2 separate regions of the Homo sapiens genome follow, and region 1 is linked to region 2. Evidence: fine-mapped expression QTL. A gene starts in region 2. The other region holds a variant in brackets. All regions are shown on one strand. Distances are from middle to middle. Region 1 holds the start of SUPV3L1 (Suv3 like RNA helicase). Region 2 holds the start of VPS26A (VPS26 retromer complex component A).

Region 1 (8,000 bases), 54 kb after region 2:
TTATGAAAATAGATGGAAGATAAAATTTTGTTACAATGTCTGTTCACGTGTGGTACCCATTTATTGTCTCAGGATAAAAGTCAGTCTTTCCTGGTTGCTCCCGGGAAGGGGATTTTTTAGCTCTTTTGAGAGCCCAGGCTTTTAGACAGCTAAGGGATTTCAAAAACAAGTGATTATAAAATTAAAGATGCTCTCATTTAGAAAAAAAATACAGGTCTAAAATATAACACAGTTATGGATTAGAACTGTTATGCAGCTCAGTATTAGAATAAAGCAAAGGTTTTCCAGGAGTGGTATTATGCCCCGGAAAGAAAGCAAGACAGAGCAGGACCACATGGGTACCATCTGTACAAGTTCTACAAATGTGTCTGACAGGTGCCCCATCCCTTCCAGCTCTAACATTTCATGACTCTAACACTAAATCTTTTTTTTTTTTTTTTTTTTAATTTTGAGATGGAGTCTTGCTCTGTCGCCCAGGCTGGAATGCAGTGGTGCAATCTCGGCTTACTGCAACCTCTGCCTCCTGGGTTCAAAGGATTCTCCTACCTCAGCCTCCCGAGTAGGTGGGACTACAGGCACGTGCCACCATGCCTGGCTAATTTTTTGTATTTTTGGTAGAGATGGGGTTTCACTTTATTAGCCAGGATGGTCTCGATCACCTGACCTCACTGAGAGGTGAAGCCAGCTGGACTTCTGGGTCGGGTGGGGACTTGGAGAACTTTTCTGTCTTACAAGAGGATTGTAAAATGCACCAATCAGCACTCTGTAGCTAGGATTGTAAAACGCACCAATTGGCACTCTAGCTAGCTAGAGGTTTGTAAAATGCACCAATCAGCTCTCTGTGGCTAGCTAGAGATTTGTAAAATGGACCAATCAGTGCTCTGTAAAATGGACCAATCAGCACTCTGTAAAATGGGCCAATCAGCAGGACATGGGTGGGGGACAAATAAGGGAATAACAGCTGGCTGCCACCCCCCAACCCCAGCCCCCAGCCAGCAGCAGCAACCCGCTTGGGTCCCCTTCCATGCTGTGGAAGCTTTGTTCTTTCGCTCTTCACGATAATAAATCTTGCTGCTGCTCACTCTTTGGGTCCATGCCACCTTTGAGAGCTGTAACACTCACTGCAAAGGTCCACAGCTTCATTCTTGAAATCAGCAAGACCACGAACCCACTGGAAGGAACAAACTCTGGACACATCGTGGTCCACCTGTCTTGGCCTCCCAAAGTGCTGGGATTACAGGCGTGAGCCACCGTGCCCGGCCAAGAGTAAATCTTAAAAGTTCACTTAGGATAAGCAACAGTTTAGCGTCTAGATCATGATAACCTTAATGTCAGAAAAATACTAGAAACTTCAACTTACAAAATTTGGTAGACAAGGTATGAGAGAGTAATCTACAGGATGTGCTTTTGTGAAACCTACACCAGATTTTGTTAATAGCAAAAGCAGGCCGGGCGCGGTGGCTCACGCCTGTAATCCCAGCACTTTGGGAGGCCGAGGCGGGTGGATCATGAGGTCAGGAGATCGAGACCATCCTGGCTAACACGGTGAAACCCCGTCTCTACTAAAAATACAAAAAAAATTAGCCGGACGTGGTGGCGGGCGCCTGTAGTCCCAGCTACTCGGGAGGCTGAGGCAGGAGAATGGCATGAACCCAGGGGGCAGAGCTTGCAGTGAGCCGAGATTGCGCCACTGCACTCCCGCCTGGTGACAGAGCAAGACTCCGTCTCAAAAAAAAAAACAAAAAACAAAAAACAAAAAACAGCAAAAGCAAAGGCGAAGAAGAAATTAACTTGTATTATTTCTGCCACCTAGGTTATCTTCTCCCACTTCCTTTCCCCTTCTATTTATTTCCGTATTCATGCATGGATTTAGCATATTTACAGACTATCAGTTAGTGCTTGCTATGGTTTGAATGTGTCCCCTAAATTTTTTGTGTTGGAACTTAATCATCAAATTCATATATTGATTGGAGGTGAGGCCTTTGGGAAGTAATTAGGATTAGATAAAAGTTCTCAGTGTGGGTCCCCCATGATGTGACTGGTGGCTTCGTAAGAAAAGAGAAACCTGAGTTGACACACAGGTCTTGCTCTCTGGCCATGTGATGCCTTCTACCAGGTTATGTCAAGAGGGCCATCACCAGATGCCAGCCTCTTGATCTTGGACTTCCTAGCCTCCAGAACTAAAAGAAATAAATTCATTTTCTTTACAAATTACTCAGTCTGTGGTGTTCTGTTATAGCAATGCAAAATGGAGTAAGTGTTATCTTGGCCCTATCCTGAAGGAACTTTAATCCAGAGCAGTGGTTCTCAAAAGTGTGGTCTCAGACCAGCAGAGTTGCATCATCTGAAATGTTTTAGAAATGTAAACTCTCAGATCCCACTCCAGATCTACTGAATCAGAAACTTCAGGGATGGGGCCCAACAATCTTGTTGCACTCTAACGTTTAAGAACCACTGACCCAGAGACACAATTACGATAGTTTTCATTCTATGATAGAGCCTCTACTGGGACCTGTGATATGTAAGAGAAGCACCCAGTGTGTTCAGAGGTGCAGAGGTAAGAAACGATGATATAACTGGTGTATAGTTCCAGCATGAATAGAATGGTAGATGTGGGGAGTAGAAATAAAGCTGGAAGAGGCATATAGGGCCAACCAATTTAGGACAGAACCTGGATGCCATACGATGGAATATGGGCTTTATCTGAACATTTATTCAGAATCACCAAAGGACTCTAAGCAGGAGTAACTTACCAGATTTGTGTTTTCAAAAGATCATTATGGTGCTACGGCAAAGTATAGGAGGATACCAGTTACATAGTTACTGCATTAATCCATTCAACAAGCAAAATAAAACATTTATAGAGGCTCTAATATGTGTTAGGTGCTGATTACACTTACTGCTATAAATATGACATAACCAGTATAGATATGACATCTTTTTTTGTAAAAGCAAAAATTTTATATTGAATTTTCCCATTTCAATGTTTATAGTAGAACTTAATGAATGGCTGAAAGGGAAAGCCTGTATGTGCTATCATAAAATTCAGATTGCATTTTCTACCTGCAAGGAGGTGCAAACAAAATTACAGTTAAAATAGTTTTGAGGATTTTTTTTTTCTGTAAAACTATACTAGGGTTGGGCTAGATCTGTAAGACTAGTAACTGCCAGGTGCTGTGGCATGCACCTGTAGTTCCAGTTACTCAGGAGGCTGACACAGGATTGCTTGAGCCCAGGAGTTCACGATCACCCTTCCAAAGAAAAAAAAAGACTCGTACAAATGTTGATTCTGGCCTAATATGCTGCTCCTGTCCAAAAAGCCCACCTATTTGCTTTGAAATCAGAAAGACTGGCTGGGCACGGTGGCTCACACCTGTAATCCCAGCACTTTGGGAGGCCGAGGCAGCTGGATCACTTGAGGCCAGGAGTTCTGAGACCAGCCTGGCCAACATGGTGAAACTAAAGAGAATACAAAAATTAGCCAGGTATTGTGGTGCAAGCCTGTAGTCCCAGCTACTCGGGAGGCTGAGGCATGAGAATTGCTTGAGCCTGGGAGGTGGACGTTGCAGTGAGTTATGATTGCACCACTGCACTTCAGCCTGGGCAACAGAGTGAGACTGTCTCAAAAAAAAGAAAAAAAAAAGATTTAGATTTGTATCTGACTCTACCACTTACTGGGGCAAGTTAGTTAACCTGGTGACAATAATACCTCTAAATTGTTGTCAAGCATATTAAAAGATTAAAAGGAACAACATAGTGCTTGCCTCAGTTACGTATTAAACGTTTGGTTTATCCTTCATTCTCCTAGTTTCCAAATCTGACGAGACATCATTGTTTATTAACATTTTCTAGCATATTTAGTCACTCACTACATTATCTAAGGAGTCTTGTAAAACCTCTCATTCCACATACATGGTCTCCATCATAACTCAGACACAGGAATCTACCACCTTCAGCTAGAACTGTTGATAAAGTTGTAATTTTCCTCCCTGCATATTTGTGTTTATCCTAGTCTATCCTAGGTACTTCCTAATGAATGATTTCTCTTCTCAAAAATATAATCACTATTTGTAAGCCATAGAATTAGGTCTGCGTTAACTCTGTTACTTAAATTTTTTTCAGTATGTCTTTTCCTTAGTTAAGCCTCTGCTTACATCGTTTCCACTGACTAGAATTTACTTACCGCTTCTCTATGTTTTACTTTTAAGTCTGGCAGAAATCTCCTTACCACTCTCAAATTGCTCCTTTCTTTGAACTGCCATTAGTCTATTAGAGTAATAAGTGCATTATTTAACGTGTACTGTTCTTACCACCAAAACCAGATCAGAACCTTTGAAAGCAAAGGACTGTCTCCTTGTATCCCTGATGTTTAAAAATTATTTTGTGAATCAAAGGCACGTGGCAAATTGTTACTGGAATCCTATTAGACATACAGTATTGTATATTACATAACACGTTCCTTCAAGTTGTAAGATCTTAATGATGTAAGTATAAAGAGATGTGGATGGAGATGCTAAACTTGTGAATTTTTTTTTTTTTTAGACGGAGTCTCACTCTGTTGCCCAGGCTGGAGAGCAGTGGCCCGATCTCGGCTCACTGCAACCT[C/T]TGGCACCCAGGTTCAAACGATTCTCCTGCCTCCGCCTCCCTAGTAATTGGGATTACAGGTGTGCACCACCACGCCCGGCTGATTCTTGTATTTTTAGTAGAGAGGGGATTTCACCATGTTTGCCAGGCTGGTCTCGAACTCCTGACCTCAGATGATCCACCGGCCTCGCCCTCCCTAAGTGCTGCGATTACAGGCGTGAACCACCACGCCCGGGTTAAACTTGTGAATTTAACATGTTGCAGCCTCACATGAGAACACGGTATTCAACAAATGCAATGGAACGAAACTATGGCTGGGGTACAGAGCACGTATTTTTGCCATGTGGTCACAACTATGTGGTCATAGCTGCTAGGATGATGTACGCAAACTGCTCACATTAAAGCAAAAGTACTTACGTAATACAAGGGGTTTAATAGTGCAACAATATTTCTTAGCAACATTTCTGAGGGGCATATCAAGTTATTATCGCTAACGTTATCATATCAGGAAATGACGGTTAACAATGCAAGAAACTTTTGGGAAATGCTATTTAGTGTTTGAGTCCGCAAGACATACTCGTACCCTGAGCATTCGCAGTTGCTGCTCCACCACCCATTCTCTCACTGCTCACCCACGTGCTTCTGGACACTTGCTTACCAAAGTACTAGTTTGCATCACGTGACACGACTAGCAGGCCCCCTCCGCTCATGTATGACATCCCAAAGATGCCTGATTATTTTCCCTTCTTTAGGGAAAGGTGGTCCCAATCACCAACAAAACAGAGAAAGAGAACGAGAATTATCTCTAGTGGTTTTGCCTGCTAATCTTCTTTTTCCCTGAAAGAACACCCTCACGGCACGGCGTTTTCCTTAACGGTCAGGCGTTTTCCCGGGCAGCTTACCTGCTCGGCCTGGGTCTTTCTGGACAGCAGGCGCTGGAGGTGCGCGTCACTGTCCGCCGCCGTGTCCGCGGCTGCGCCAGACAGTGTAGAACCTGCGGCCTCGATGTCCTTCTCCCGTGCCCTATTGTGGGCTCGGCTCCCGGCGGGGCGCCAGGCTGGCCACCGGGCAGCCATCTGCTCTGCCCTTCGTCCCCACTTTGGGCCCTTTCCCGGGGTTCTGGGGCAAGTTTCTGTCCTTGCCACCGCCTCCTCCTCTGCCTCCGGTGGCTCCAAAATACCAAACACGTCCTTGTTCGTGCCCCTGACTGTGAAACCTCAGGGCCCCAGCGCCGACGGCGACGTCGGGGCCGAGCTAACCCGGCCTCTGGACAAGAGTGAGTGCGGGAACTACTGAGGGCGGCAGAGGGTGGTGTCTGCTGGGCCGAGGCTGGTTGGGAGGAAGCTACATCCCCTTCCCCTGGGGATCCGAGGTCCCATCGAGTGTTGTCATCGTGCCTCTCAGTGTCTGCCTCCTTCGCTGGTGTGTGAGCCCCTCAAACGGCTTAGGACTGTATCTGATTAATTCTTAACGCCTCGTCCCAGAAGCGGCCTTTTCCCTTTTACTGCCCTGCTCTCTGAATGGTTTAGACACTCATGTGTTGGGAAGATTTGACTTTTTTGAGTTGTTAGGTGGACGCCCGCTCTTTCTTGCATTCTTTGTTTCTCTCCCACCCCCGAATGGGATGTGGCAGTGAAAAGCCAGCGGAGACTCCTTTTAGGATTCTTTATCATTGAGGAGGCGCCGACTCATACCACGCTGTTAGGCTGTGTGGTGGTTGCCAAGAGGAACCAGACTCAGATCCAGATCCCCTCTTAAGAAACGTAACGGTATCGTGGGGGAGGACACGTGTATGGAAAGTGAACTGTAATACAAGGTAGAACATGACAAGGTCTAGAACAAGGTAGGGTGTCCCCGGCTCCAGAGAGAAAAGAAGAGGTAGCATCAGTTAGTGGCAGCGGGCTTTGCTCAGCAAAACTTAAGTTTGGATGGATTCGTTGACAGAGAGGCATGTGAATGTTTTCAAGGTGAGTTTCGGGATGATTAGGGAGGTAAGGGAGTTTCCTCTGACCATATGAAACTGGGAGATTGAGGAAATGCTATCCAGAATTGTCTCCAGGAATAGGAGGAGAAATGTCTCACTTCAACAAGCGACATTGGTGCCTCCTATTGTAAATCTAAAATATAGACTACAATATGTTTTTCAGAGCAGAAGTACAGTACTTTCACTAAACATGTGATGGAACTCACAGTATATGTTATTCTTTGACATATTCTTCCAGTGTTAAGCAAGGCCTTTCACTTTACTTGGTGCTGGGAGACTGTCTTTATTTTCTGCTGTTATAACATAATACCTGAGACTGAGTAATTTATAAACAATAGAGGTGTATTTGACTCATGGTTCTGAGCCGGGATCTGATGAGGGCCTTTGGCTGCATCATCACATGGTGGAAGGTGGAAAGGCAAATGAGCCTGTGAGACAGAGAAAGGGGGCTGAACTTATCCTTTTTTCCTGTGATAACTGACTCCTGTGATAATGGCATTAATCCACTCACAAAGGCAAACTCCTCATGTCCTAATCACCTCTTAAAGGTTCCACCTCTCAACTGTTAAAATAGCAATTAAATTTCAATATGAGTCTTGGAGAAGACATTCAAACCATAGCAGAGAATGTGTTATTTTAATAATGTAATTATACTATTATTTATTTTTAAATTATAAAAATACATAAAATTTACTCTTTTAAGCTTTTTTTTAGTTTTTTTTTCTTTACTTTTTTTTTTTTAGAGACAGGGTCTTGCTCTGTTACCCAAGCTGGAGTATAGTGGTATGATCATAGCTCACTGTAACCTCCAACTCCCAGACTCAAGCAATCCTCCTGGCTCAGCCTTCTAAGTAGCTAGGAATACAGGCGTGCATCACCATGCCTGGATAATTTTTTAATTTTTTGTAGAGATGGGGTCTTGCTATGTTGCCCAGGCTGGTCTCAAACTTCTGGGCTCCAGGGATCCTCCTGCCATGGCCTCCCAAAGCCCTGAGATTACAGACCTGAGCCACTGCACCCAGCCAGTCTTAATTGTTTTTAAGCACATAGTTCACTAGCGTTAAGTATATTGACATTGTCGCGAAATAGATGAGAACTTTTTCATCTTGCAGAGTTGAAACTCAAACAATAGTTTACCCATTAAAGAACAATTTTCCATTATTTTATATTATTTGAAGGCATAAGGTAATTTGGATGAGATAATTTGCCTTATTGTATTCAAATATTGATAAATTCTTATTTTCTGCAGCTATTCCAATTCACCTGAAAATGTAAATGTCTTTGCTGCTTCCTGTAAGAAGATAGAATAAAGACATGGGTTTGTCAGCACTAGATTTTCTTCTGGTGGAGAATCCTTAGATACTTCATTGGGTCTGTGTGCCAGGTGATTTTTCATCTCCTTTGACTGGGATTGGTCCAGATGTTGAATTTA
Region 2 (8,000 bases):
TATATCTTGATGAAGGTGTGGGTTAAACAAATGTATGCTTTTTTTTTAAGAGTCAGGGCCTGGCTCTGTAGCCCAAACTGGAGTGCAGTCGCACCAGTGTGGTTCACTATAGCCTGGAACTCCTGGACTCAAGCAATTCTCCCGCTTCAGCCTCCTGAGCGGCTGTGACTACAGGCATGCCCCACCACCTGGATAATTTTTAAATTTTTTCTAGAGACTAGGGTCTTGCTCCACCATCCAGGCTGGAGTGCAGCGACACGACCATTGCAGCCTTGAACTCCTGGCCTCACGCAATCCTCCTGTGTTGGCTTCACAAAGTGCTGAGATTATAGACATGAGCCACGGCGCCCTGTGACACCATGCACAATCAAAATGTATGCAATTGTCAAAACTGATCAAACTGCACACTTAAGACTAACATATGTCACTGTATGTACATTATATCTCATTTTAAAAAGAAAAGAGGAATAGTGAGATAAAACATTAAGTATTGGTACATTTAAGAAAAAACTGTATATTGTGAAAAAATGTTTGGCTTTTATAATTGTAATTTTTTAAAAAAAGAATATTTACCATGATTACAGCTGCACTCGCTAAAGTTTTTAAGCAAAATCTATTCTATGTGCTCTGGGAGGTTAAAAGAAAAAAGTGTTTCTATACTTCACTGGCATGCTTTAAATTGTATTTTATTTTTAAATTAAATTAATTTATTATTTATTTTTTGAGACAGGGTCTCGCTCTGTTGCTCAGGCTGGAGTGCAGTGGTGCAATCTCTGCTCACTGCAAACTCTGCCTCCCTGGCTCAAGCTATCCTCCCACCTCAGCCTCCTGAGCAGCTGGTCCAATAGGCACATGCCACCACTCCCAGCTAATTTTTGTTCTTTTGCAAGAGACAAGGTCTCACCATGTTGCTCAGGCTGGTCTCAAACTCCTGGGCTGAAGTGATCCACCTACCTCAGCCTCCCAAAGTGTTGGGATTACAGGTGTGAGCCATTGCGCCCGGCCTAAATTGTATTTTCTTTCTTTATCCTTTTTGTGTATTTGTATTTTATTCTCTTCCCTTAACTTTGCCAGTGAACTCTGCAAACAGCTGCTCCCTGACACTCTCACAGTTATTAATGTGAATTTTTAGTCTTTGTGAATTTGAACAAATGACTATTTTTCTCTTAACTGGTTTCTGATTGATAAAAGCTCAGATTATCTTATCATCTAATACTTTCTGACCTAAACTCGGTACTTTTGTTGATGAAAGTCAATCCCTGTAAGTTAGTCACATTTTCCTCACACACCCCACCTTTTTTTTTTTTTTTTTTTTGGCAGAGGGCAAATATAGAGATGCCACAGTTCTCAGCTGGTGAAACACTGTACTGCTCACAATCTAGCTCTAACATTCTGGCTTGCTGAATAGATTGATAGGTAGGCAGACAGACAAATAACTAGCTCAACAATTCTGTTGCTTCTTGTATTTATTATGATAGCACAATTATTGATTGGGTTTTGATCAGTAGAATAAATAATTAGTACAAATTGGTTTCTAGTGTGACTTTCTTTGCCACCTCTTATTTATACCTGGCTTCGCTAGTATTTCTTTGCCTGTGTGGCATTTTCATCTATTCTCTTTGTTATGTTGATATTTAAGTCCCAGAAAAGAGTGGGTAGGAACCAGAGTAGCTCTCAAGGTGACAGGCAAATCTTCTAAGTGAAAAAAACCATTTTTCACTTTTATTAATTAAAGATTTGCATTGTTTTTGCTGCTTTCTTTTCACAGTTCAAACAGACAACAATATCAGTGTTACTATAGTTATTTATTTTTTTTGAGATGGAGTCTCGCTCTGTCACCAGGCTGGAGTGCAGTGGCGCAATCTTGGCTCACTGCAATCTCTGCCTCCTAGGTTTAAGTGATCCTCCTGCCTCAGCCTACCGAGTAGCTAGGATTACAGACGTGCACCACCATGCCCCGCTGATTTTTGTATTTTTAGTAGAGACGGGGTTTCGCCATGTTGGCCAGGCTGGTCTCAAACTTCTGACCTCAAGTGATCCGTCCGCCTCGGCCTCTCAAAGTGCTGGAATTATAGACTGTGAGCCACCATGCCTGGCCCAAATATGTGCATTTAAAGCTACAAATTTTCCTTTTACACAGTGTCACTGCATTCCACAAATTTGATATGTTGTATTATTATCTTTTATTTCAAATTATTTTATTTTTATTATTTTTTATTTTTGAGACAGAGTCTTGCTCTGTCGCCCAGGCTGGAGTGCAGTGGCTCCATCTCGGGCACTGCAACCTCCGCTTCCCGGATTCAAGAGATACTCGTGTCTGACCTCAGGTGATCCACCTGCCTTGGCCTCCCAAAGTGTTGGGATTACAAGTGTGAGCCTCCGTGCCCGGCCTCAACTTATTTTTAAATTTCCATTGATCTCTTCTTTGACCTAGAGATTTGGAATTATGTTGCTTAATTTCCAATATTTCCGGAATTTTCTGGCTTGTTTGGGTTGATTTCTAATTTTAATTCTATTGCGGTTAGAGATGATACTCTGATTTCAATCCTCTTAAATTTGAGGCTCACACTGAGGATTAAGTATAAAAAAATTTTTTTTGATACCTGTTTCATGGACTCGCCTCACAAACTTCTGTTTTAAGGTGGGGTAATTATAGTGCGTTCAGGGATGGATTTTTCTTCTGCTTTGGTTATGCATAGAGTGCACTGTGGCCCTTCAACACTATACTCTGAAATCCCACACAGTATTTTCCTCATCTGGAGGTCCTATAGGCTTACACTAGGGAGGAGGATCCAGTTCAGGCCAGCGTAGTCTTCAGCTGCGCCGTGGGACTTTCGGGGGAGCGCCTTTGCCCTCTCAGAACGGCTGGGCGGAACGGTGGGTTTGTGAGCCCTCCAGGCTCAGGGTGGGTCGCTCAGGGGCCATCTGGGGACTTTGGGAAGCAATGAAAGTTGTACCCTAGGATTTTTTTCTACTGGTCTTCTCTTCAGAGGCGAGAAAGCCAAGTTAAGAAAACCCAGACTCAGAAGGAGGTGGAGCGGGACTGCGTTCAGGCAAGGTGGCAGAACGCCTCGCCGTGGACGAAGAGAGCACATCTCTTCTTGCGAGGCCTAAGGAAGTAGGGCTCCCACTCGCCTCGGCAACCCAAGGACCCAGCCAAGGAGAGAGCCTCCAGATGAATCCTTCCTCTCCTCCTTCCTTCCCAGCCGCTCAAACTTTCACAAAGAGGAACTGGGTGCGGTAAAGAGGCCGGACACGGAACCGCTCGTCCGGTGACCGAAGAGACGGCGAGGAGGAGCCCGCGAACCCGCCTCTGTTCAGGCCCCGCCCACTCGACGTAATTTGCCCGCCCCTCTCCACCCTCCGAAGGGTGGAGCCTGAGGCCCCGCCTCCAAGCGGCCTCTCCCCGGAGTGCCTGGCGGCCAGCAGGGCGGGGCAGGAGGCTGGGAGAGGGACGGGTGCGGGGGTGGGGGAGAGGAAGGGAGCGGTCACGTGTGAGGGGCGGCCCGAGGTCACGTGACGGAGCGCCGGAGCGGAGGGAGCCGGGGCTGGGAGTTCTCCTGAGGGAAGAGGAGTGGAGTAGGGGGGACGCGGCGGCGGCGTTGACAATGGTGAGTGCGCGGCGGCCAGCGCGCTCGCCTCCCGCCCTCGTCCCGGAGCGCGCGGCGGGCCGGCCAACCGCGGGCCGGGCGTCGCCGGAGGAGGGGACGGGGGAGCAGGGCGGGGAGCGGGGTTAGGCCTGTCGGGCCACCCCTGGGTCTGGGAAAAGCTGGCGGCGCCACCTCTTCCCGGTCTCGGCGAGGCCCGAGCACCTACGGGCGGCGGCGTGCTCTCCTGGCCATGTCGGAGCCTCTGCCCGCGTTCTTCGACTGCTTGTTGGGGCTCTGGCTGGGGACTCGGACCCCGCCTCTGCGGGGGCTGGTCGCCGCCTCCCCTTCCTAGGTAGCCAGTCCCTGTTCTCCTCCCGGGCAGCCTCTCTTCCATCCAGGTGGGGCGACCCGGGAGCCCCCCACCTCCGGACTCTTCGGGGGACTTGGGCACTCAGTGTGTCACGAACTTGATAAACTCTGATATTTTAAAACCTGACTATGGTGACATTCTTTGATTTCATGACCCCAGTTCAGGCTTTCTGTTGACACTTGTAAAATGGGAGAGAAAAATAAAAGGACGTTGGAATGGGGGATATCTTTAACTCCAGAGACACCCGTTTGGTGCCCGCCGTTTTAAGCATTGGCTCTCATTTCCGTCCGCAAGCTATTTCGCTGAACTTAACGCTCTGGGTTGTTGAAACGGCCTATGAGGCAGAGGAGGGAGGGGAATCAGTGCTCTCACCACAGTCCGCGGAAGCACTAGCCTGGGCATTGTGGTATTTAGCTGGGTGTCGGCAGTCTCTAGGTTAGATCTCATTTTACCCATTTTCTGGTAGTAGTCGTCAGTTCTCTTCATTTAGCGCCTACTGTATGCTCTCCTAATACTACCTGCTCTTCCCAAAGCTCACTGATTCAATAGACTGCTTGAGACTTTTGGCTTAAAAGGCCGAGCCAGGTATATTTTTAAAAAGCTACTTTGAATAAATAACTTTTAATTTCAGTAATGATGTTGCTTTCAAAACAAAACAAAACAAAATCCAGACATTCATGTTCATTCTTAGAGCTTTTTTTCTTTCATTCAACAAATAATTGCTCAGGTGTGCCTAGGGGACCCCAGTAAAATGGAAACAGCGCCTACCTGCTCTCGTAGCTTACAATGTAGGGAGAGATAAACATTTATTTGTGTAAATTATTTGTTTAACGTGGAAATTAGAATTGTGACAGATACTAAGAAGGAAGTATTGGGGGACCTTGCCTAGTCAGTGTTAGGGCAGGCTTCTTTAATTGAATATCATTTGAAAAGAAAACTTAAAAGGTCCTCCTATTTTTTGCTTACATTTGTAATTATTACTTTTAATACGCTTTTTTGAATTATGTTCAAGAGCAGTTTATATTTTCAAGTTACCCAAACAGAAACTAAATTGTAAAACTTTAAAACACTGAAATGGTCACAGATGTAATATATGTATGAAAATTTGCTGTTTCATTGCTTGTGTATGGGCTAAGTGAATGAATTTTGAGAGTCAGCCTTCCACCTCAGAAATGCAATGAGTTGCATTTCTTTACATCCACTGGACTTAGTGAAATTCCTTCAGTGGGGACTAAAAAGTTGCCTTTTTATGTATCTACCATGTATTTTTGCTAATTGGTAATGCTCAATATTGGGTTCAGAAATTATATGAAAAATCCTAAATTAACCTAAAGTCAGTGATAGGAGGTTTAGGCCAAGATTAGAAAACTATAAAAACAATTGCTAGCATGTTTTTATAGTCATATATATTGCAGTCCAGTTATTTAAAAGCTCAAGAGTTTTAACTTGCATATTAATAGTTAATCCTGAAAATCGCAATATTCCAAATGCGCCCTTGAAGATATCTTTACCAAAAGAAGTGAGTAGTATTTTTGCACTTAAAAGATCTCACGGGGTGCGGTGGCTCACACCTGTAATCCCAACAATTTGGGAGGCCGAGGTGGGCGGATCACCTTGAAGTCGGGAGTTTGAGACCAGCCTGGCCAACATGGCGAAACCCCGTCTTCACTAAAAATACAAAAACAAAAAAAAATTGGCCAAGTGTGGTGGCGCATTGCTGTAGTCCCACCTACTCGGGAGGCGGAAGTTGCCTGACCAACATGGTGAAACTCCGTCTCAACTAAAAATAAAAAAATTAGGTGTGGCGCACACCTGTAATCCCAGCTACTCAGGAGGCTGAGGCAGGAGAATCAATTGAACCCGGGAGGCAGAGGTTGCAGTGAGCCGAGATCGCGCTGCTGTACTCCAGCCTGGCGACAGAGTGAGACTCCGTCTCAAAAAAAAAAAAAAAAAAAAAAATCTCAAAACTGAATTGCTGTCTGCATCATATCCTAACCCTCAACAAATTTTATTCTCTTTCCTTCTAGTCTTTACCAGCTTGACAGTTGTGTATTTTACTTCCTCTTTAACATATCAGAAGTATTAGAATTTTATTTAGAATAATTAGAAAAAGAATTTAATTTCATTACCCTTTATTTCAAATGACAGAAGTTGCACATCTTAGAAAAAACTTTGAAAGAGAGACTTTGGGTAGAGATCTTTCTCTTTCAGTTCTTTCTAAAAGACAAGCTTTTTTCCTCAGTTATTTTTTTCTTTTTGTTCTCTACCTGTAAAATGTAAGATATCCACAATTTTCTGGAGGTGTTTTTTAGTAAGACTAGTTCTTTTATTATTATTATTATTTTTTGAGACGGAGTCTCGCTCTGTCGCCCAGGCTGGAGTGCAGTGGCGCGATCTTGGCTCACTGCAACTTCCGCCTCCTGAGTAGCTGGGACTACAGGAATGCGCCACCACACCCGGCCAATTTTTTTTTTTTTTTTTTTTTTTTGTATTTTTAGTGGAGACGGGGTTTCGCCATGTTGGCCAGACTGGTCTCAAACTCCTGACCTCAAGTGATCCGCCCGCCTTGTCCTCCCAAAGTGTTGGGATTACAGGTGTGAGCCACTGTGCCTGGCTGACTAGTTCATTTTCGATATGCCCTAATGTAAAAAAACTGAATGTTGGTCGGGCGTGGTGCACTTTGGGAGGCCGAGGCGGGCGGATCACGAGGTCAGGAGATCAAGAGCATCCTGGCTAACACGGTGAAACCCCGTCTCCACTAAAAATACGAAAAATTAGCCAGGCGCGGTGGCGGGCACCTGTAGTCCCAGCTACTCGGGAGGCTGAGGCAGGAGAATGGCATGAACCCGGGAGGCGGAGCTTGCAGTGAGCCGAGCTAGCGCCACTGCACTCCGGCCTGGGCGAAAGAGCGAGACTCCATCTCAAAAAAAAAAAAAACCTGAATGTTAACCCAATGCCATATTGTCATGGAATAACTGGTTAAAGTGCAGTAATTTATTACTCAACCTATTACTTTTTTGCATATGCTATACTAGGCTTTTTAAAAATGCCATTTGATTGCTTCCAATTTTAGTGTTTTGATTGTATTTAAAAATATCTTTTTTTTTTTTTTTTTTTTTTTTGAGACAAGCTCTTGCTCTGCCGCCCAGTCAGTGGCTTACTGCAGCCTCGACCTCCTGGGTTCAGCCTCCCAAGTAGCTGGGACTGCAGGCACACACCACTATGCTGGGCTAATTTTTTAAATTTTTGTAGATATGGGGGTCTAGCTGTATTGACGAAGCTGGTCTTGAACTTCTGGGCTCAAGTGATCCTCCTGCTTCAGCTTCCCAAAGTGCTAGGATTACAGGTGTGAGCCACTGTGTTCTGCTACTTTTTTTAAAATTATGAAATATTTCTTGCATCCAGAAAATAATAGAGGATAGCACGTAGTTTTTCACATATTTTTAATGGTTAGGAATTTAAATATTTAAGGAATGGTGTCAAAACACTGTTTATCATTATGGTGTTAATTGTGAAATTTTATAAAATGAACTTGGTTTATACCATTTTAATTGGTGGCAATTTTAGTTCTATCAAAATTTTATTTAACTTTGGGATTTGATTTTTTTTTTTTTTTTTTTGAGGCAGAATCTCACTCTGTCGCCCAGGCTGGAGTGCAGTGGCAAGATCTCGGCTCACTGCAACTTCTGCCTCCTGGGTTCAAGCGATTCTGCTGCCTCAGCCTCCCGCATAGCTGGGACTACAAGTGCATGCCACCACGTCTGGCAAATTTGTTCTGTTTTTGTAGAGATGGGGTTTCACCGTGTTAGTCAGGATGGTCTCGATCTCCTGACCTTGTGATCCTCCTGCTTCGGCCTCCCAAACTGCTGGGATTACACGCGTGAGCCACCGCGCCTGGCGATTTGATCTTTTAATGTCAGCTTTCAAATCCCAAGTGGAACTCTGTGTGTTTAGGTATATGCATGTGGAAAAAAGTTATAATATTTCCTTTTCTCTGTAAAACAATTTTTATAGTTTTCAAATCTCATTTTTCTTTTAAG

Evidence for each region. PIP is the estimated chance that this variant, and not a neighbour inherited with it, causes the effect.
Region 1: its variant is fine-mapped to the expression of VPS26A in whole blood (INTERVAL, PIP 0.92).

Annotation. Positions count from the first base shown.
Region 1 is chr10:69,174,703-69,182,702 of GRCh38, forward strand. SUPV3L1 (Suv3 like RNA helicase) reads left to right here and starts at 5,532. Exons shown (of 15, transcript NM_003171.5): 1 at 5,532-5,860. The coding sequence starts at 5,590. RefSeq lists an enhancer at 5,247-5,616. The variant C/T (reference allele first, on the strand shown) is at 4,606.
Region 2 is chr10:69,120,670-69,128,669 of GRCh38, forward strand. It overlaps VPS26A (VPS26 retromer complex component A), which reads left to right and starts at 3,509. Exons shown (of 9, transcript NM_004896.5): 1 at 3,509-3,611. The coding sequence starts at 3,609. RefSeq lists enhancers at 2,743-3,102, 3,967-4,473 and a silencer at 3,363-3,762.